3 linked regions of the Homo sapiens genome follow. The protein of the gene in region 1 interacts with the protein of each later gene in a pairwise test. Each region holds a gene or a part of one and is shown on either strand. Other genes may lie near its edges. The genes, in order: ZNF131, MORN4 and PIP4K2B.

What was found.
Region 2: the proteins of ZNF131 (region 1) and MORN4 interact in binary tests that used the Homo sapiens proteins (3 or more experiments, as listed by UniProt).
Region 3: the proteins of ZNF131 (region 1) and PIP4K2B interact in binary tests that used the Homo sapiens proteins (3 or more experiments, as listed by UniProt).

The regions. Positions count from the first base shown.
Region 1 is NC_000005.10:43,123,807-43,130,915, reverse strand, and holds part of ZNF131 (zinc finger protein 131), read right to left. Parts: intron 1-7,109. UniProt on the Homo sapiens protein: Plays a role during development and organogenesis as well as in the function of the adult central nervous system. May be involved in transcriptional regulation as a repressor of ESR1/ER-alpha signaling.
Region 2 is NC_000010.11:97,623,483-97,630,591, forward strand, and holds part of MORN4 (MORN repeat-containing protein 4), read right to left. Parts: intron 1-7,109. UniProt on the Homo sapiens protein: Plays a role in promoting axonal degeneration following neuronal injury by toxic insult or trauma.
Region 3 is NC_000017.11:38,768,454-38,775,562, reverse strand, and holds part of PIP4K2B (phosphatidylinositol 5-phosphate 4-kinase type-2 beta), read left to right. Parts: intron 1-4,290; coding exon 4,291-4,549; intron 4,550-5,023; coding exon 5,024-5,127; intron 5,128-5,791; coding exon 5,792-5,872; 3' UTR 5,873-7,109. UniProt on the Homo sapiens protein: Participates in the biosynthesis of phosphatidylinositol 4,5-bisphosphate. Preferentially utilizes GTP, rather than ATP, for PI(5)P phosphorylation and its activity reflects changes in direct proportion to the physiological GTP concentration.

The sequences.
Region 1 (7,109 bases):
CTCCAGCCTGGGTGGCAGAGTGAGACTCCATCTCAAAAAACAAACAAAAGAGCCGGGCGTGGTGGCTCATGCCTGTAATCCCAGCACTCTGGGAGGCCGAGGCAGGTGGATCATCTGAGATCGGGAGTTCGAGATCAGCCTGACCAACATGGAGAAACCCCATCTCTACTAAAAATACAAAAAATGAGTTGGGCATGGTGGTGCATGCCTGTAATCCCAGCTACTCGAGAGGCTGAGGCAAGAGAATCGCTTGAACCCGGGAGGCGGAGGTTGCGGTGAGCCGAGATCACACCATTGCACTCCAGCCTGGGCAACAAGAGCAAAACGCTGTCTCAAAAAAAAATTAAAATTAAAATTAAAAAATGTGGTAAAAGAATCGAAACATCAACCACTTCAAAACTTTTCTCATTTAACAACCAGCACTATTAACACTCAGGAAAATTAATTTTGAAGTTAGGAGAAGAAAGTTATCAAAGAAAAAATATCATTTTGAATCTGCTCTTACTTTTATATTACTCATTTCACAAAATGTATACATTATTTCTTTCTCTCCCTCACCACCATACTGAATCAATGCCAGAACTTTTTGATTCTGTCTTATTATCTCTCAGCTACATTGCCTCTACTTTCCTCTTTTTTTTTTTTTTTTTTGGAGACAGAGTCTTACTCTATCGCTCAGGCTGGAGTGCAGTGGCCTGATCTCAGCTCACTGCAATCTCCACCTCTCAGGTTCAAGCAATCCTCCTGCCTCAGCCTCCCCAGTAGCTGGGACTACAGGCACGCGCTGCCATGTCCGGCTAATTTTTGTATTTTCAGTAGAGACGGTTTCACCGTGTTGCCCAGGCTGGTCTCGAACTCCTGAGCTCAGGCAATCTGCCCACCTCGGCCTCCCAAAGTGCTGGGATTACAGGCATGAGCCACCGCGCCTGGCCTCCCATTTCTCTTAAAACCAGAAGTTTCGGCTGGGTGTGGTGGCTCATGCCTCTAATCCCAGCACTTTGGGAGGCCGAGGCAGGCAGATCACGAGGTCAGGAGTTTGAGGCCAGCTTGACCAACATGGTGAAACCCCGCCGTCTCTACTAAAAATACAAAAAGTAGCCGGGCGTGGTGGCACGCACCTGTAATCCCAGCCACTGGGGAGGCTGAGGCAGGAGAACTGCTTGAACCCAGGAGGCAGAGGCTGTAGTGAGCCGAGATTGTGCCACTGCATTCCAGCCTGGGTGACAGAGCAAGACTCCATCTCAAACAAACAAACAAAAAACACAGAAGTTTCTCCATAAATCTGGCAGCAAAATTTGATCTCAGCTAACATGGGGCTATGTCATCTTTATCCCACTTAAGAGTGAATACTAACATGCTATGCTGCTAAACTATTAGTATTTGTGAGTATTATGTTTTTCATTACCCTTAGAAAAATTCTAAAATCTGGAATGTTGAGAAGTATGTCTGGCCTCCGAGAAGATTTGAATAAGGAATTGTGGACCTAGCTCCCTGTCCTGACTGATGAGAATCACCTATAGACTAAATAAAGTACTGGTACCAAGGGCTGGGTGTGGTGGCTCATGCCTGTAATCCTAGCACTATGGGAGGCCAAGGCAGGAGCATTGCTTAAGGCTGGTAGTTCAAGACCAGCATGGGCAAAGTAGTGAGATCTCTTCTCTACAAAAAATACAAAAACTAGGCTGGGCATGGTGGCTCATGCCTGCAATACCAGCACTTTGGGAGGCTGAAGCACGCAGATCACTTTAGGTCAGGAGTTTGAGACCAGCCTGGCCAACATGGTGAAACCCTATCTCTACTAAAAATACAAAAAATATTAGCTGGGCATGGTGGTGGGAGCCTTAATTCCAGCTACTTGTGAGGCTGAGGCATGAAAATTGCTTGAACCCGGGAGGCGGAGACTGCAGTAAGCCAAGATCACACCACACTGCACCCCAACCTGGGCAACAGAGTGAGACTCCGTCTCAAAAATAGTAATAATAATAAATAATAAATAAAAATACAAAGACTAGCTGGCCTTGGTGGTATGTGCTTGTAGTTAGAAGGCTGAGGTGAGAGGACTGCTTGAACTCAGGAGGTCAAGGTTGCAATGAGCCATGATGGTACACTGCACTCCAGCCTGGGTGACAGAGCAAGACCCTGTCTCCAAAAAGAAAGTACTGGTACCTGATCTTTGGAATCAAAACTGGGATAAATATCTGGGTTTTTGTTTTTTTTATTATGAGCACCCCAGGTGTGTTTTTTTTTTTTTTTTTTTTTGAGATGGAGTCTCGCTCTGTCGCCCAGGCTGGAGTGCAGTGGCGCCATCTCAGCTCACTGCAAGCTCCGCCTCCCAGGTTCACACCATTCTCCTGCCTCAGCCTCCCAAGTAGCTGGGACTACAGGTGCCCACCACCATGCCCAGCTAATTTTTTTTGTATTTTTAGTAGAGACGGGGTTTCACTCTGTCAGCCAGGATGATCTCGATCTCCTGACCTCATGATCCGCCCGCTCGGCCTCCCAAAGTGCTGGGATTACAGGCGTGAGCCACCATGCCCAGCTCCCAGGTGCTTCTAACTTATATGACCAGCCCAACACTGTCCTAGGAACAAACCAGTGACCTAATTAGCTAACATGAACCAAACTGATAATACTTGCCCAGCTAAATGAAGTGATGGTGGATATGTAATAATTATACATCTATCAAGACTAGTTTGGTAACTTAACAAATCTCAGCAATCCCTTACTCCCTTCATAACAGAAGTGCGCAGAATACAACTTTTCTAAGAGAGTATCTAAGGAAAATGTTAAAGTGAACAACTGAATCTAAGTCTTCTCCCTGACAGAAATGCTTAGAAAGGAGTAAAAGGGAGCAGCATTGTGGCATTACTCTAGACTCAGGGAATCCCTGCAACTGGTGGAAAACTCCTACTCAAAAAGATGTATAAACATGTACAAGGATGTTTTGTTCTTGATAGTAGGGGCTAAAATTTCTGGACACCATGGTAGAGCTGCTGTTACAGAGAAACTAAGTGCCATGGATCTGTGGTTTCAGGTGAAGTAGAAAAAGAATGAATTTAGAAAATTGGAGGTTCACGTTAGAAGGTTGTGTGTTCTGAACAAAGGAATGAATGTCTGTTGAAGATTTTATATGGTGTGAATCCAAGCCACAAAGCTGAGCTGGGATCCAATTAGCTTCAATAGCAACAAATCTGATTTGAAGTCAAAGATGAACCTGTGGTTTTCATCAAAGGTAACTTACTTTAACCAGGAACACAGAAAACATGGAGGGTGAGCTCAGCTTGCACCTAATGAGTTTATACTCAGAGAATATTACAATCTAAATTTATATACACGTCATTTGCTTTTACGCAATCCTCTAAGACAGTGGTCCTCAACATTGACTGCACACTAGAATCATGCTAGGGCAGTGCTGCTCAAATTTTACTGTGCGTAGGCACCATCTGGGGATCTTGTTCCAATTCAGCAGGTCTGGAATGGAACCTGAGTCTACATTTCTAACAAGTTTCCAAATGATCCCCATGTAGTGGTCCTCAGACCACAACCTACATAGTATATCAAGAACCTAGAGAACTTTTAAATATAGTTTTCTGGATCCTACTCCTGAAAGATTTTTAATTATCTGGAGATACAACCTGGGCATTTATATTTGTAATCGCTTCCCTGGTGTCTCTAATGCCCACCTAATGTGCCATGCTAAGTCATTATTTATATTTTACGAGTGGGGGACGGGGTCCCAGTTCTAGCTAAGATGGAGAAAGCACACTCCACCCTATCTTGTCCATTGATTATTACTAAAAATCCTGGAAAGAATACATAAAGCAAATATACAAGGACTCTGAAAAGTAATTTGAAGCAAGCAGACTGGCGAGAGAAATCAAAACTCAAAACAGTAGTGAGTTTCCTGGTTTTTTTCTCCCACATATGTCAGCTTAGACTTGAGGACAGCCCAAATCTCATTAACTGTGCAGTGAGTGAAGACAGAGAAAAGTTCCAAGAGAAACTCCTTCTGGCTAGAGAACTAGAAAAGATGATGAATGGGAGAGGGACAATGGGGAGGGGTGGATATCTGGTAATTTTTCTTCTCTCTCAGCTCTGCCTCAAAGCAAGCCCCAATCCTGAGTCTGCACACCTGTGGCTGGTAGCTGTCTCCTAAACTCTAAAAGAGAGTTCTTCTGACAAAAGAACTAGGAAAAAGACGATGATCGGAAGAGTATGGAAGAGGGAATTCATTTTATTTTTTTCTCTAACTTTTCTCTCTCTCCATTTTGTTCAGGAAATGAGCCCCTCTACAGAAAACGTATGAAAAGCACAAAGAAGCTAAAATTCCAGTTTTCTCACCAAAGAACCACGAAAAGAAACTCTTGGGAGCTTGTGTACAAGGGAAGTCACGGAGAGAAGAAACGTCCTCTAAATTTGTGTATACAATCTCAAGTTTACCACCAACATGCCCATGTGTGAACTGACCCAAGGCGGCAGAGGAAAGGCGCTGAGAACTGCACAATGGCATGGATGGCACACCTGGGACCTGAACAGCAATACGAAGGTTTTGAAAAGTAAGTTCAAACTGGATCCACAGCCCACAGAGGCAGTCTGAACCTAACCAGGTTAACTGCCCGCTAAAGTGAAACCAAAAAACCAAAAATATTTTCCAGAGGATTTTAACAGCATCCAGTTTTGTAACAAAATATTCAAATGTCCATGACATACTCCAAAATTATGTGACATGAAAAATAAGGAAGCCAAGATATCTAAGGTCACACAGCACACAAACAGTTAAAGCCAGGGCTAAAACTCAAGTTTTCTAACTAACTATATGCCCAGGGCTTTCTCCACAGCCAGGTGACCTTGCTAGACAGTACTGTAACCCCAAAGTTAAGGGCTTAAGATACTGAACCAAATTAATTATTTAAACCTGAATCTGACCAAATGACAGAAATAAAGTGTGTGTCTATTTTGCTTTCTTATCTATCTAGAATTCAAATACTGAAGACTTGTGTGTGCCACAGACCTAAATCTCAAGGTGACTAGTCTTCAGAAGACCAGGCTCTACTTCTACTTCTCCAGGTAATGTGTGCTCATTCTACCAGCAACAAATATTCCAGCTTGGGCCACTTTTCCTTTTTTTTTTCTTTGAGACGGAGTTTCACTCTTGTTGCCCAGGCTGGAGTGCAATGGCGTGACTCAGCTCGCTACAACCTCCGCCTCCCGGGTTCAAGCGATTCTCCTGCCTCGGCCTTCCTGAGTAGCTGGGATTACAGGTGCCCACCACCACGCCCGGCTAATTTTATATTTTTAGTAGAGACAGGGTTTCACCATGTTGGTCAGGCTGGTCTCGACCTCTCGACCTCAGGTGATCTGCCTGCCTCGGCCTCCCAAAGTGCTGGGATTACAGGCGTGAGCCACCGCATCCGGCCAGGCCACTTATTTTTTAAGACTTAAAAATTCTGCTCAGACTTGGCCAGTCGTGGTCTCACGCCTGTAATCCCAGCACTTTGGGAGGAAGAGGCGGGTGGATCACCTGAGGTGGGGAATTCGAGACCAGCCTGATCACGCCATTGCACTCCAGCCTGGGTAACAAGAGCTAAAATCTATCTCCAAAAAAAAGAAAAAAAAAATTCTGCTCAGACTCAAAACTCCTCTTTGAAATCTTTCCTAAGGAAGACCAAACCACTCATTCTCCCTCTTCAGTGATACCATTTCACAGTAATAGTCTTTGTAATACTTTTTGCACTCCTTTATTTGCCTGTTGCTCACCTGTTATGAAATTTTCCGACTTCTTTAAGGGACATCTTATTCATTAATTCTTCATCTCCTGGGTCTAACATAGTACATGATATATTATAGATATTCAATATGATAAACTGACTTTTTTTTTTTTTTTTTGAGACAGGGCCTTGCTCTGTCGCCCAGGCTACAATGCAGTGGCAAAATCATGGCTCACTGCAGCTTTGACCTCCTGGGCCCCAGCAATCCTCCCGCCTCAGCCTCCTGAATAGCTGGGACCACAGGCATGTGCCATCAGACTCAGCTAATAATTTTTTAAATTTTTTGTAGAGAAGAGGTCTCCCTAATGTTTCTTAGACTGGACCCTGTTTATCAAGCTTTGACAAGGCACCAAATATCATGCCATGCACTCTGCATGTTATCGCAATTAGTCTTTATAATCCTATGAACCCACTTTTCAGATGAGGAGAAAAGTATGCAATTGAGGTAAAGTAACCCGCCTGGGGTCACATATTTAATAAACCTCAGGTGTGAATGAATTCATGGAGGCTTGCTTTGTAGTAGAAACCACTATCATCTGGGCAGTTAGATTCTCACTTTATTAAGTTTTGTGGATTTTCATAATTATGTCTCTGTCCTGATTATAGATATTAAAAGATACTCTAGCTGTAAATATATCAGCTATAATGCTAAACTGGAATATACCAAAATTAAAGAATATTCTTAACTCTTTTTTGTTTTCTTTACTCCCCTAGGCATCAAAGGGAAAAAAGGAGTTTCTAGGCAACCCATTCAGAACAAAGAATACGTACACAATGAAATAGATATAAAACCAAAACCCAAGAACCCTAAAAGAAGCTAAAATTCTGTAATTACGTAGGCAAACATTTATTTCCTGCTGTTTTAGATTTTGATGCTGGTGGTAGGGGAGGAGTTACTGCAGTAGCAGAAGAAAAAGCATGGTAATTAATAGCACAAACTTAATTCCTTGCTAGTTGGACAACCCTGGGCAAGTAACCTTTTAGAGCCTGCTTCCTGAAGTGTAAATTATTACAAATAACACCACTTCCCTTTTTGAAAAGAAAAGAAAAGAAAAGAAAAGACAGGGTCTATGTTGCCCCAGGCTGGCCTCGAACTCCTGGGCTCAAGCAATCCTCCTGCCTCAGCCTCCCGAGTAGCTGGGACTACAAGCACAAGCCATCCTGCCCAACATCAAACGATTGCTGTGAGCCTTAGACAATACACAAAACTACATATCACAACGCCTGGCACTTGGCAGGTTATTATTAGAAAAATGTCTAGAAAGTACAAAAATCACTTTTTGCTTCAAGGTAACAGGTATTGATCCATCCCATTGTAGAGCCAGAATTTCCTCTAAATGC
Region 2 (7,109 bases), on another chromosome or scaffold:
TCTGACCCTCAGGCATCTGACTGAGTTCCAACAGGACAAGGACACATTCTCCTCAGAGTACTGGGGCCAGACCTGGTGGAGAAACAGGAAAGAATTCTTTTTTCTTTTAGAGACAGGGTCTCATTATGTTACCCAGGCTGGACTTGAACTCCTAGGTTCAAGAGATCCTCCAATCCCCTCTTAGACTTCTGAGTAGCTGGAACTACAGGTGCATGCCACTGCTCCCAGCTCAAAACAAGACGGGATTCTTTTTTTTTTTTTTTCTTTTTTTGAGACAGAGTCTCACTCTGTTGCCCAGGCTGGAGTGCAGTGGCATGATCTCGGCTGACTGCAAGCTCTGCCTCCCGGGTTCATGCCATTCTCCTGCCTCAGCCTCCCGAGTAGCTGGGACTACAGGTGCCCACCACGACGCCCCACTAACTTTTTGTATTTTTTAGTAGAGATGGAGTTTCACCGTGTTAGCCAGGATGGTCTCAATCTCCTGACCTCGTGATCCGCCCGCCTTGGCCTCCCAAAGTGCTGGGATTACAGGCATGAGCCACCGTGCCTGGCCGCAAGATGGGATTCTTAAATCTCGGGGGCCTGGCGCCAACAGCTAGCTTCCTTTTCCTTCAAGTCCCAGGGAAGCCAAAACCTCATCCAGTCAAGATGGAGTTCCAAAGAGTGGGTTCCATAGTTTCATAGCACAAAAGGGGTCTGGTATATTTTATGCAAAAGTGATGCTTTAAATGTTCAACTAAAACAACCCATATGTTAAATTTGCTTTCTCCACATTGTCATGGTGGACAGTGCTAGATTATTTATATTTCAATTCAGGTGGCACAACCCTCTCTAATAATCAATTGCACTAACCCCAGAGAAGCTGTCTGAAATACCTTTATAACAGAAGCTAACATTTACTGACCTCTTACTGTGTTCCATCAGTGTTGTTTATTTGTTTTGTTTTAAGAGATGGGGTCTCACTCAGTTACCCAGCCTGGAATGCAGTAGTGTGATTGTGATTAGAGCTCACTGCAGTCTCAAACTTCTGGGCTAAAGTGATCCTCCCGCTTCATCCTCTCCAGTAGCTGGGACTAGAGGTGTGTGCCAACACACCCAGCTACTTTTCAAATTTTTTGTTGAGATGGGTATCGCTATGGTGCCTAGACTGGTCCCGAACTCCTGGCCTCAAGTGATTCTTCCTCATCAGCTTCCCAAGTAGCTGGGATTACTGGTGTGAGCATCAGTGTTTTTTGTTTTGTTTTGTTTTTGAGACGGAGTTTCACTGTTATTCTTCCCCAGGCTGGAGTGCAATGGCGCGATCTTTGCTCACTCCAACCTCCGCCTCAGCCTCCCAAGTAGCTGGGATTACAGGCATGCGCCACCACGCCTGGCTAATTTTGTATTTTCAGTAGAGATGGGGTTTCACCATGTTGGTCAGGTGACCTCAGGTGATCCTGACCTCAGGTGATCCACCTGCCGCGGCCTCCCAAAGTGCTAAGAATACAGGCGTGAGTCACCGCACACGGCATGAGCATCAGTGTTTTTAAAATATATTATCTAATTTCATCTCACAACAACTTTTTGGGGTGGGTATTATTATTATTTCCACTTTAGGGATGAGGAAACTAAGGTGCAGAGAGGATAAGTAAATTAACTAAGGTCATACATGTGGAAACTAACACGTGAAAGTTAGAATCAGAGCTCTGACAGCTGGCCTTGCTGGCACAAGTTCTTACAGTAACTTGCTAACTTATACCATACTATCCTATCTGGCCTCCCAGGATAATATGGTGGTGTTGTAGACTCTGAGCACAGGAGGACTTGAGTTCAAATATGAGTTCACTGTATAATTATGGGCAAGGTATTTAAGTATCTCTAAATCTCAGTCTCCTCATCTGTAAAGTGGAGATAAGATATGTATTTCACATAGTTGGCAGGTGGATTAAATTAAATATCTGAGAGTCAGTGGGTGACAGAAAAGAAAAATAAAAGAAAGAAAATGACACACACGTAAGTACCTAGAACACTGCTAGGGCCTGTCCACTAAATGTTAGTTTCTTTCCTCTTTCAAAGTTTTACACTTAAACTCACACATATACTTACTGTAATGAAAACTTCTCTAGGTCTTTCCTCAGTAAAAACTGCTACCAATGTAATTCAAACAACACTTTGAAAAAGAAAATCTCAGCAATTTTGACTAAAGAGCTGAATACTAAGTAGAGGAAAAACAAACTATAGTTGCCACCCATCCACTCTTTATCAACATCCTACAGGATATTTTTATTTTGGCCTCATGTCATAACGATTTTTTGTTTTTTAAGGAGACAGTGTGTCGCTCTGTTGCCCATGCTGGTGTGCAATCGCTTGATCATAACTCACTGCAACCCTGAACTTGTGGGCTCAAGCAACCCTTCTGCCCCAGCCTCCCAAGTAGCTAGGACTATAGGCACACACCACCATGCCCAACTAACTTTTTTGTAGAGACCGTGTCCCACTATGTTGCCCAGGCTAATCTCAAACTCCTAGCCTCAAGCAATCTCTGGCCTTGGCCTCCGAAAGTGCTAGGATTATAAGCATGAGCCACCACACCCAGCCTCATGCCTTTTTTTTTTTTTTTTTTAAAGAGAACAAGCGGGCTGGGCACAGTGGCTCACGCCTGTAATCCCAGCACTTTGGGAGGCTAAGATGGATCACCTGAGGTCAGGAGTTCGAGACCAGCCTGGCCAACATGGTGAAGCCCTGTCTTTACTAAAAACACAAAAATTAGCCAGGCGTGGTGGCACATGCCTGTAGTCCCAGCTACTTGAGAGGCTGAGACAGGAGAATCACTTGAATCTGGGAGGTGGAGGTTGCAGTGAGCCAAGATCATGCCACTGGTCTCCAGCCTGGGTGACAGAGCGAGACTCTGACTCAAAAATAATAATAATAATAATCATAATCATAATCATAATCATAATCATAATCATAATATGTTCTGATGCTTGTTCTCTCTCTTTTTTTTTTTTTCTTGAAACGGAGTCTTGCTCTGTGGCCCAGACTGGAGTGCAGTGGTGCAATGTCGGCTCACTGCAACCTCCACCTCCCGAGTTCAAGTAATTCTCCTGCCTCAGCCTCTCGAATAGCTGGGATTTCAGGTGACCGTCACCATGGCTGGCTAATTTTTGTATTTTTAGTAGAGACAGGGCTTCACCATGTTGGTCAGGCTGGTCTCGAACTCCTGACCTCAGGTGAGCCACCCATCTCAGCCTTCCAAAGTGCTGGGATTACAGGCATGAGCCACTGTGCCCAGATTTTTTTTTTTTTTTTTTTTTAGACAGAGTTTCATTCCTGTGGCCCAGGCTGGAGTGCAATGGTGCAGTCTCAGCTCACTGTAACCTCTGCCTCCCAGGTTCAAGCGATTCTCTTGCCCCAGCCTCCCAAGTAGCTGGGATTACAGGCCCCTGCCACCACGCCCAGCTAATTTTGTATTTTCAGTAGAGACAGGGTTTTACCATGTTGGCCAGGCTGGTCTTGAACTCCTGACCTCAGGTGATCCTCCCGCCTTGGCCTCCCAAAGTGCTGGGATTACAGGCATGAGTCACTGTGCCCGGCCTGATTTTTGTTTGTTTGTTTGTTTAATGGAGACTGGTGCTGGTGACTTTGCTGAGTAGCTTCAGCAGAGGGACCTGAACACCTTTTTTTTTTTGTTTTTTGTTTTTTGAGACACTCTCACTCTGTCACCCAGGTGGAAGTGCAGTGGCTCGATCTCAGCTCACTGCAACCTTCGTCTCCTGGGTTCAAGCAATTCTCGTGCTTCAGCCTCCTGAGTAGCTGGCATTACAGGTGTGTGCCACCACGCCTAGCTACTTTTTGTATTTTTAGCAGAGACAGGGTTTCACCATGTTGGCCAGGCTGGTCTTGAACTCCTGGCCTCATGTGATCTGCCCACCTCGGCCTCCCAAAGTGCTAGATTACAGGCGTGAGCTACCGCGCCCAGCCAGAACATAATGATTTTTGATACAGACACCAAAAGCCCAGAAATGGTCTAATGTGAAAACAGCTAGGCCTGACCAGAGCAGGGTTCAATGACATCTTCTACGCCCTGGCTCTGTCCCAGCCATGAGGACAGACGAGTTATAAGAATCCCTGTGCTCTCACCCAAATAAGAGAAAAGATTCATTTCTCGCCTAAATGAAGGGCAACCTTGTGGAGACTCTTCTAGAGATATTTGGGGGCCACTCCCATAGGACTTTCTCCCTTCTTCAGTTATCAGTCAAGCATTCCATTTCCAGTATCTCTCACACAGAAGATATCCGAGGCAAGGACCATTATCTTCTTGTAGTAAACTCCCTCCAAACCTCTGGGAGCTATTTTCTGAGACGTGATGCTGGTACTTGCCATGTCATCTCTGTCCTATCAATGTCCCACAAGGTCAGCATCCAATTTCAGGCTCACAAGCCTCTTATCACCAGCCCAGCATCAGAGTGTGCTGGGGTAGAGGCCAACATGACTCCATTGCAAATATAACATTAATGAGAGCATGAGAAGTAGTTTTCCATCAGAATAGCAGAAGAAAACGCTTTCCAGTACAGACGGGCATTTTGATCAGGCAATCCTCAGCTCTTCCCAGAACTAAGTTACAGCACTAAAAGTCAGCTTATGGTTGAAGTTTCATTCCTTCAAAACACATCAGTTAGAATCTGAAGGGCTGTATCTTCCACTAAATCTTATAATTAAACAACCATTCCAAAACCTAAACACAAAATCACTATTTATACAAAAAGATTATAAGAGCATTTCCTTTAGATGTCTGGCAGCAGTTAACCAACTTGTTTTCACTCAAAATTTGGAAGGAGTTATTGCAGTGGGATTTGAGGAGTCATATTGACTACACAGGGACTCAGGGAAAGTACTGCCTTGTATTTATTTACTTTTTCTCAAGGCTACGTGAAACTTCCAAAGAGTGGCATTCTACCTTGTTCCAGAAGGAACAGTATAAGATTGCTGAAAGAAGGGAACATTTCTCCAGTTTGAGGGTTATTTACGGACAAAGTACTAGTTTTCAAGTGGTACACCTAACCACTTTTTTTCTTTCTTTTTTTTTTTTTGAGACACAGTCTCACTGTGTCACACAGGCTGAAGTCTAATGGCATGATCTTGGCTCACTGCAACCTCCGCCTCCCAGGCTCAAGAGATTCTCGTGCCTCAGCCTCCTGAGTAGCTGGGATTACAGGCGTGCCAGCACGGCCAGCTAATTTTCATATTTTTAGTAGAGATGGGGTTTCACTATGTTGGCCAGGCTGGTCTCAAACTTCTGGCCTCATGTGATCTGCCTGCCTTGGACTCCCAAAGTGCTGGGATTATAGGCATGAGCCACCACGCCCAGCCCCTAACCACTTTTTTAGTATGCTGTTAGCTCTTGGGGATTATACCCTAAATATTTTAAGGAAGCCAATGAAACTGAAAAGGTTACCTTCTTATTACCAAATGTGGCGGACTGTATTTCCAAGATGTTTGCAACAGTATCTTCTGTCTTACATGTTTGTCTACAATTTGATCTGGCCATTGATCCATTAAAAGGTGAAATCTACCTCCCCTCCCTTGAATCTGAGTAGGCTTGTGACTGCTTGGACCAAAAGAACACAATGAAAATGATGGTGTGGGCCGGGCGTGGTGGCTCATGCCTGTAATCCTAGCATTTTGGGAGGCCGAGGCGGACGGATCACCTGAGGTCGGAAGTTCAAGACCAGCCTGACCAACATGGAGAAACCCCATCTCTACTAAAAATACAAAATTAGCTGGGTGTGGTGGCCCATGCCTGTAATCCCAGCTACTTGGGAGGCTGAGGCAGGAGAATTGCTTAACCCAGGAGGCGGAGGTTGAAGTGAGCCAAGATCGCGCCATTGCACTCCAGCCTGGGCAACAAGAGTGAAACTCTGTCTCAAAAGAAAATGGTGGTGTGTTCTGAGGTTAGATCATAAAAGGTGATGCAACTTCCATCTTGTCACTGATACACTCACACTTGGAGACCCGAGCCACCACATAAAAAGCCTGACTACACAGAGGCTAACACTGAAAGCCAAGCCACACAGAAAAGCCATATATTGGTGTTCCAGTTGGCTGCCCTTACCTTTGAATCATCCTATCCCACGTACCAGGCATCAGTGAAGGAGCCTTCAGATGATTCCAGCCCTCAGCCATTGAGCCTGCATTCCATCCCATATCAGGGAGCAGAGAGAGGCCTCCCCATGGTGCCAGGTCCAAATTCCCTCACCCACAGAATCCATGAGCATCATATGGGTGTTTTTTTTTTGTTTGTTTGTTTTGTTTTTTGAGACAGAGTCTCGCTTTGTCACGCTGGGTGGAGTACAGTGGTGTGATCTCGGCTCACTGCAAGCTCCGCCTCCCGGGTTCAAGCAATTCTCCTGCCTTAGCTTCCTGAGTAGCTGGGACTACAGGTGCTCGCCACCACGCCCAGCTAATTTTTTTTTTTTTTTTTTTGAGACGGAGTCTTGCTGTCTCCCAGGCTGGAGTTCAGTGGCACGATCTCAGCTTACTGCAAGCTCTGCCTCCCAGGTTCTCGCCATTCTCCTGCCTCAGCCTCCCCAGTAGCTGGGACTACAGGCGCCCGCCACCATGCCCAGCTAATTTTTTTTTGTATTTTTAGTGGAGACGGGGTTTCACCATGTTAGCCAGGATGGTCTCGATCTCCTGACCTTGTGATCCGCCTGCCTCAGCCTCCCGAAGTGCTGGGATTACAGGCATGAGCCACTGTGCCCGGCCCCGGCTAATTTTTTGTATTTTTAGTAGAGATGAGGTTTCACTGTGTTAGCCAGGATGGTCTTGATCTCCTGATCTCATGATCCGCCCTCCTCAACCTCCCAAAGTGCTGGGATTACAGGCATGAGCCACCGCGCCTGGCCACAGTATGGGTGTTTTAAGCTGCTAAATTCTGGGGTACTTTGTTATACAGCAATAATAACTGGAATACCATGTTTCAACCTAACCCTCCCACCATCCTCTCCCATTGGTTTTCAACAGTACATACTACAAACTTCCATTCCATTTTGACTTAGGCACATATAGCAAATTCCCTTCAGCAAATGCTTGCCAAAATGATGTCCATTGCCAAGACCACAGTCAGAAGT
Region 3 (7,109 bases), on another chromosome or scaffold:
TTTTAAAGCTGAATAAGGCTGAGCATGGTGGCTAACACCTGTAATCCCAGCAGCTCAGGAGGCTGAGGCAGAAGGACTGCTTGAGGCCAGAAGTTGGAGACCTGGGCAATTTACTGAGATCCTGTCTCTACAAAAAATTAAAAACTAGCTGGGTGTGGTGACATGTGCCTGTAGTCCTAGCTATTCAGGAGGCTGGGTGGGAGGATCCCTTGTGCCTAGGAGTTCACGGTTGTGGTGAGCTATGATCATGCCACTGTGCATCAGCCTGAACTAGAGGGTAAGACCCCATCTCTTTAAAAAACAAAACAAAAGCTAGGCGCGGTGGCTCACGCTTGTAATCCCAGCACTTTGGGAGGCCAAGGCAGGCGGATCACGAGGTCAGGAGATCGAGACCATCCTGGCTAACACGGTGAAACCCCGTCTCTACTAAAAATGCAAAAACAAAATTAGCCAGGTGTGGTGGTGGGCGCCTGTAGTCCCAGCTACTCGGGAGGCTGAGGCAGGAGAATGGCATGAACCCGGGAGACGGAGCTTGCAGGGAGCCGAGATCGTGCCACTGCACTCCAGCCTGGGCGACAGAACGAGACCTCATCTCAAAAACACACACACACACACACACACAAAAACTGATTAATATTCCATTGTATGGATGTATTACATTTTGTTTATTCATCAGTTAATGGACACTTGTTATATCAGTTGGGGTTCTCCAGAGAAACAAAACCTATAGGATGTTTTGTAAATCTCTTTATACCAAGATATTTATTTTTTATTTTATTTATTTATTTTTTTTGAGACAGAGTCTTGCTCTGTCACCCAGGCTGGAGTACAGTGGCGCGATCTTGGCTCACTGCAAGCTCCGCCTCCCGGGTTCACGCCATTCTCCTGCCTCAGCCTCCCGAGTAGCTGGGACTACAGGCGCCCACCACCATGCCCAGCTAGTTTTTTTTGTATTTTTAGTAGAGATGGGGTTTCACCATGTTAGCCAGGATGGTCTTGATCTCCTGACCTCATGATCTGCCTGCCTCGGCCTCCCAAAGTGCTGGGATTACAGGTGTGAGCCACCACGCCCGGCCCTAAGAGATTTATTTTAAGGAATTGTTTCATGGGATTATGGATACCAACGAGATCTGCAGTCAGCAAGCCGGAGGCCCAGGAGAGCTGGTGGTGTGGTTTTATTCTACAGGCCATCAGGCCACCAGGCAGAAGGAGTTCCCTCTTCCTCACCGGAGGGTCACCCTTTTTCTTCTCTTCAGGCCTTCTGCTGATTGGATGATGCCCATCCACACTGGGGAGGGCCATCTGCTTTACTCAGTCCACCAGTTCAATGCTCATTTCACCCAGAAACCCTCACAGACACACCCAGAATAATGCTTGACCAAGTGTCTGGGCACTCAGGCCCAGTCCAGCTGGCATATACAATTAGCCATCACACTTAGGTTGCTTCCACCTTGTAGCTGTTGGGAATAATGCTACTGTGAACATGGGTGTCATAAACTTCGTTTTGCTAGGAAGCGTTTCCTTAGTCACCCCCAACTATGTTCTTTCCTTATTCTGCCTTTCATCATCTGACATTATTTGTCCTGAGTCTTTGTCCTTCTCCCTTTTCTACCCTCTCCCCCTACTGTGGTTCTGAGAAGAATTTAATGCAGTTTACTCAGTGCATTTGTTTTCAATGCATGTTGCTTTATAAATGTTCTCAGGTGGGTGGAGGGCATGGTGCATGGACCTTCTTTTTCCTGGGACCCTAGCCCCTTCTCCCTGGGCCTTGAGAAGGCTTTGTCTGGAAGTGCTCAGAGTGGCATCCCTCCCTCCCTTCCTCTTCCAAGGAGATCCTGCTGGGCTCCCATCTTTAGGGCTCCTTGTCCTTAGTTGTGTTCTGGGCTCGTGCATAGAGCTGCTCTGCTTCCATGATGATTCTCCTCCTAGTTCTCTGTTAGGACCTAACATGGTGGTCAGTCTAACAGTCTCCTAGTGACCACTGTATGATGGTGACTGCACTCTTGCCTCATTATTAGCTAAACTGGAATGCTAGCTGGCCATTTCCATCCTGTATCATTCCATACTTTGTCTTGAAATCCTAGATAAAAGACTTGAACCACCACCCTGCTCACAGCACCCATTATACAGATGAGAAAACTAAGGCTTGGCAAGGGGAGTCACATGATGCTAGGGGAGGACTTTCCCCCAGCACCACACAGCCTCTTTTGACCTTCAGGGAATGGGTTGAGAATATTGGTTGGTTCTGGCTGCCATTCTTGTATGGTTTTGTGTTCCCTTTTCCTTTTTTTTCTATTTTTACCTGGGCTGAAAAGTCGATGACATAGTTTTTTCAGACTTTGTCTCTGAGGCCAGTTAGAAGTATATTTTACCTTGCAACCCAATGGATACACACAACTGAAACACTGTCTACCCTTATTTTCTGTCATGTATTCTGATATTTTCTATTCTATTTTATTATACAGTAGTCCCCCCTTATCAGCAGGGGACATGTTCCAAGATCCCCAGTGGACGCCTGAAGCCACAGATAGTACTGAACCCTGTATATACTATGCGTGAATTTTTTTTCCTTCTTCACAATTTCACGGATAGAAGATTTGTTCTTACAGGAGATCTTAGCAACCTCAGCATGCAATTTATTTTCTTTGTAAGTCAAGAGCTTTCACCTTTTCACTTAAAGCTGGCCAGGTGCAGTGGCTCACACCTGTAATCCCAGCACTTTTGGGAGGCTGAGGCAGGTGGATCACTTGAGGTCAGGAGCTCGAGACCAGCCTGGCCAACATGATGAAACTGTCTCTACTAAAAATACAAAAATTAGCTGAGTGTGGTGGTGCATGCCTGAAGTCCCAGCTACTTGGGAGGCTGAGACAGGAGAATCACTTGAACCTGGGAGGTGGAGGTTGCAGTGAGCCGAGATTGCACCAGTGCACTCTAGCCTGGTGACAGAGCAAGACTCTGTCTCAAAAAAAGAAAGCACTTTATGGCTTCTCTTTGGCATATCTGAATTGCCAACATCACTACTCTTGCTCTGTGGAGTCATAATGAAGTCAAATATGGGTTACTTGAATACAAGCACTGTGATACAACTATAGTGAACTGATAACCAAGACAGCTACGGACAGCTACTGAAAGACTAATGGGACGTTAGTGCATACAGTGTGGATATACTGCACAAAGGGATAATCTGCATCCTGGGCAGCACTGAATGGGACATAGCAAGATTTTATCATGCTACTCGGAATGGTACACTATTTAAAAACTTATGAATTATTTCTGGAATTTTCCATTTAATATTTTTGGACTGTAGTTGACCACAGGTAACTGAAACCATTGTGGATAAGGGTGGACTACTGCATTTAATTTAAAGAAATCCTAGTTCCAGCCCACTACATTGGGTTTAGGACTCATAATGGGTTGAAATTTTGATCTGAAATATATTGTTGTGTCATATCCATCGCTCCATCCTCTTCCATAGTATATCATTTCATTATTTCTTTCCTCAAACTTGGCCATGGCCTCTTTTTTTAAAACAAGAGACAGGGTCTCACTCTGTTCCCCAGGCTTGAGTGCAATAGTGCCGTCATAGCTTACTGCAGCCTCAAATTCCTGGGCTCACGCGATCCTCCCACTTGAGCCTCCCAAGTAGGTAGGACTACAGGTGTGCACTGCCACGCCCAGCCAATTTTTAAATTTTTTTGTAGAGATGGGGTCTCATCACGTTGCTGAGGCTGGTCTCAAACTCCTGGCCTCAAGTGATCCTCCTTAATTGGCCTCCCAAAGTTCTGGGATTACAGGCATGAGCCACCGTGCCCAGCCACCATGGCCTCTCTTGATCCCAAACCGTCATGGGCTGTTCCCTCTTCCTGCAGTGCTCGTTCTATCTTTAACCTGCAGTACTTGCCTCACTGACTCCTCTTCATCCTTGGCCTCAACTCCTTTCTTCAGGGAGGGTCTTGCTCACCCCTCACTGTAAACTCCCACAGCTCCTTGCTTTTTTTTTTTTTTTTTTTTTTTTTGAGACCATCTCCCTCTGTTACCCAGCTAGAGTGCAGTGGTGTGATCACAGCTCACTGCAGCCTCGACCTCCTGCCTTTCCCCTGCTGAATGACTGTCTTCCCCATTAGAGAGAGCTCGCGAGGGCGGGTGCTCTGATGCCTTACTCTCTGTTGAATTTCAAAACTGTTTGTAGAATTGAGTTGAAAGGAATGCCTTTCCCCCCTTTCTGGATGTCACTGGGATGTCCTGTGTAACCTCTTCTTCCTTCCATCTTTCCATCCTTGCCCTTCCTAGTTCTTGGCACAGCTGAAGATCATGGACTACAGCCTGCTGGTGGGCATCCACGACGTGGACCGGGCAGAGCAGGAGGAGATGGAGGTGGAGGAGCGGGCAGAGGACGAGGAGTGTGAGAATGATGGGGTGGGTGGCAACCTACTCTGCTCCTATGGCACACCTCCGGACAGCCCTGGCAACCTCCTCAGCTTTCCTCGGTTCTTTGGTCCTGGGGAATTCGACCCCTCTGTTGACGTCTATGCCATGAAAAGCCATGAAAGTAAGTCAGAGCCTGCGCCTGCTCTGCACAGCCCTGCCCTCATCCTACCCCCTCAGCTCATTGTTTAGATCCTTCTAGGGGCATCTGGACCTCCACCTCATTCATTGCTGCCTTTGACCTCTTTCTGCCTCCAGATTCCCATCCAGGGTCACCACCTGAACCTGGGGCTCCTCCTCTGCCAGGCTTTCCTATACTTCCCTGCTTGTCCTGGCTGACTGAAGAGTGGTTCTGCTCTGGTTCATGAGATGAACCAAACTTTATTCATACTGTCCTGTCAGCCCCACAGAGTGACTGTGAAGATCCAATAAGATAAGAGCTATGACAGCTGGAAAGGACTCCACTGGTCCTTTTCTCAGCCCCAACATGATAAGGATGGAGCTGAGCCTTGTGTCTGGGGGTTGTAGCAGTGCCCAGCTGCTGTCTGCCCTTCTCCTGCCCCCTCTTCCTTCTTCCCTGCTCTCCTTGTCCCTCCAGGTTCCCCCAAGAAGGAGGTGTATTTCATGGCCATCATTGATATCCTCACGCCATACGATACAAAGAAGAAAGCTGCACATGCTGCCAAAACGGTGAAACACGGGGTGAGTCCTCTCCATCTTCATCCAGGGCCCAGCTGGGTCGGTGCATCTGTGCTTACCCTCAGACCCCAGGGAGGGCAGTCTCAGGCCTCCTGCTCCAAGGAACACACTCCTGTCTCCTTCTTCCCAGGAGAGCAGACTGGAAGAGCAGCCTGCCTGCCTTGCCATGTTCCCTGCCTTCACCCACCTGCTCCCTGCCAGGCTGGGCCCAATTTGTTTATCCCCCAGTTCTCCAGCCCTCGGGGCCAAGCCTGCCAGTGTCTTTCCCCAGGGCCTGCTGGGCCTGTTGTGCATCTTGTTGAAGGGCGAGTAATAGCTTTGTTTCCATGCCCATACTGCTCCCCACAGGCCTGTTTCCCTGTGGGCCTGAAGCCCTGTTCTCCATGTAGTGGCCCCCACAGAGATCCAGAGCCGCGTTGCCACCTCCCCACTGCCTTTCTTCTACTTCGGTGCAGGCCTGGGGTTATAAATCACAGGAGTGGGGCCAGGACAGTTCAGGACTTGTATGCCACTTCCTGAGGTGGTCTGCTCAGTCTTGGTGGGGTTGGGGGTGGTATTCAGCTCTGATACTGAGTAAGAGGCTTCTGAATACCCTGGCTCCCCCCATGTGCAGCCTCCTGATTGGGGCACAGGAACTCAACCTGAATCAGCCTCTTGTGTATTACAGGCAGGGGCCGAGATCTCGACTGTGAACCCTGAGCAGTACTCCAAACGCTTCAACGAGTTTATGTCCAACATCCTGACGTAGTTCTCTTCTACCTTCAGCCAGAGCCAGAGAGCTGGATATGGGGTCGGGGATCGGGAGTTAGGGAGAAGGGTGTATTTGGGCTAGATGGGAGGGTGGGAGCAGAGTCGGGTTTGGGAGGGCTTTAGCAATGAGACTGCAGCCTGTGACACCGAAAGAGACTTTAGCTGAAGAGGAGGGGGATGTGCTGTGTGTGCACCTGCTCACAGGATGTAACCCCACCTTCTGCTTACCCTTGATTTTTTCTCCCCATTTGACACCCAGGTTAAAAAGGGGTTCCCTTTTTGGTACCTTGTAACCTTTTAAGATACCTTGGGGCTAGAGATGACTTCGTGGGTTTATTTGGGTTTTGTTTCTGAAATTTCATTGCTCCAGGTTTGCTATTTATAATCATATTTCATCAGCCTACCCACCCTCCCCATCTTTGCTGAGCTCTCAGTTCCCTTCAATTAAAGAGATACCCGGTAGACCCAGCACAAGGGTCCTTCCAGAACCAAGTGCTATGGATGCCAGATTGGAGAGGTCAGACACCTCGCCCTGCTGCATTTGCTCTTGTCTGGATTAACTTTGTAATTTATGGAGTATTGTGCACAACTTCCTCCACCTTTCCCTTGGATTCAAGTGAAAACTGTTGCATTATTCCTCCATCCTGTCTGGAATACACCAGGTCAACACCAGAGATCTCAGATCAGAATCAGAGATCTCAGAGGGGAATAAGTTCATCCTCATGGGATGGTGAGGGGCAGGAAAGCGGCTGGGCTCTTGGACACCTGGTTCTCAGAGAACCCTGTGATGATCACCCAAGCCCCAGGCTGTCTTAGCCCCTGGAGTTCAGAAGTCCTCTCTGTAAAGCCTGCCTCCCACTAGGTCAAGAGGAACTAGAGTACCTTTGGATTTATCAGGACCCTCATGTTTAAATGGTTATTTCCCTTTGGGAAAACTTCAGAAACTGATGTATCAAATGAGGCCCTGTGCCCTCGATCTATTTCCTTCTTCCTTCTGACCTCCTCCCAGGCACTCTTACTTCTAGCCGAACTCTTAGCTCTGGGCAGATCTCCAAGCGCCTGGAGTGCTTTTTAGCAGAGACACCTCGTTAAGCTCCGGGATGACCTTGTAGGAGATCTGTCTCCCTGTGCCTGGAGAGTTACAGCCAGCAAGGTGCCCCCATCTTAGAGTGTGGTGTCCAAACGTGAGGTGGCTTCCTAGTTACATGAGGATGTGATCCAGGAAATCCAGTTTG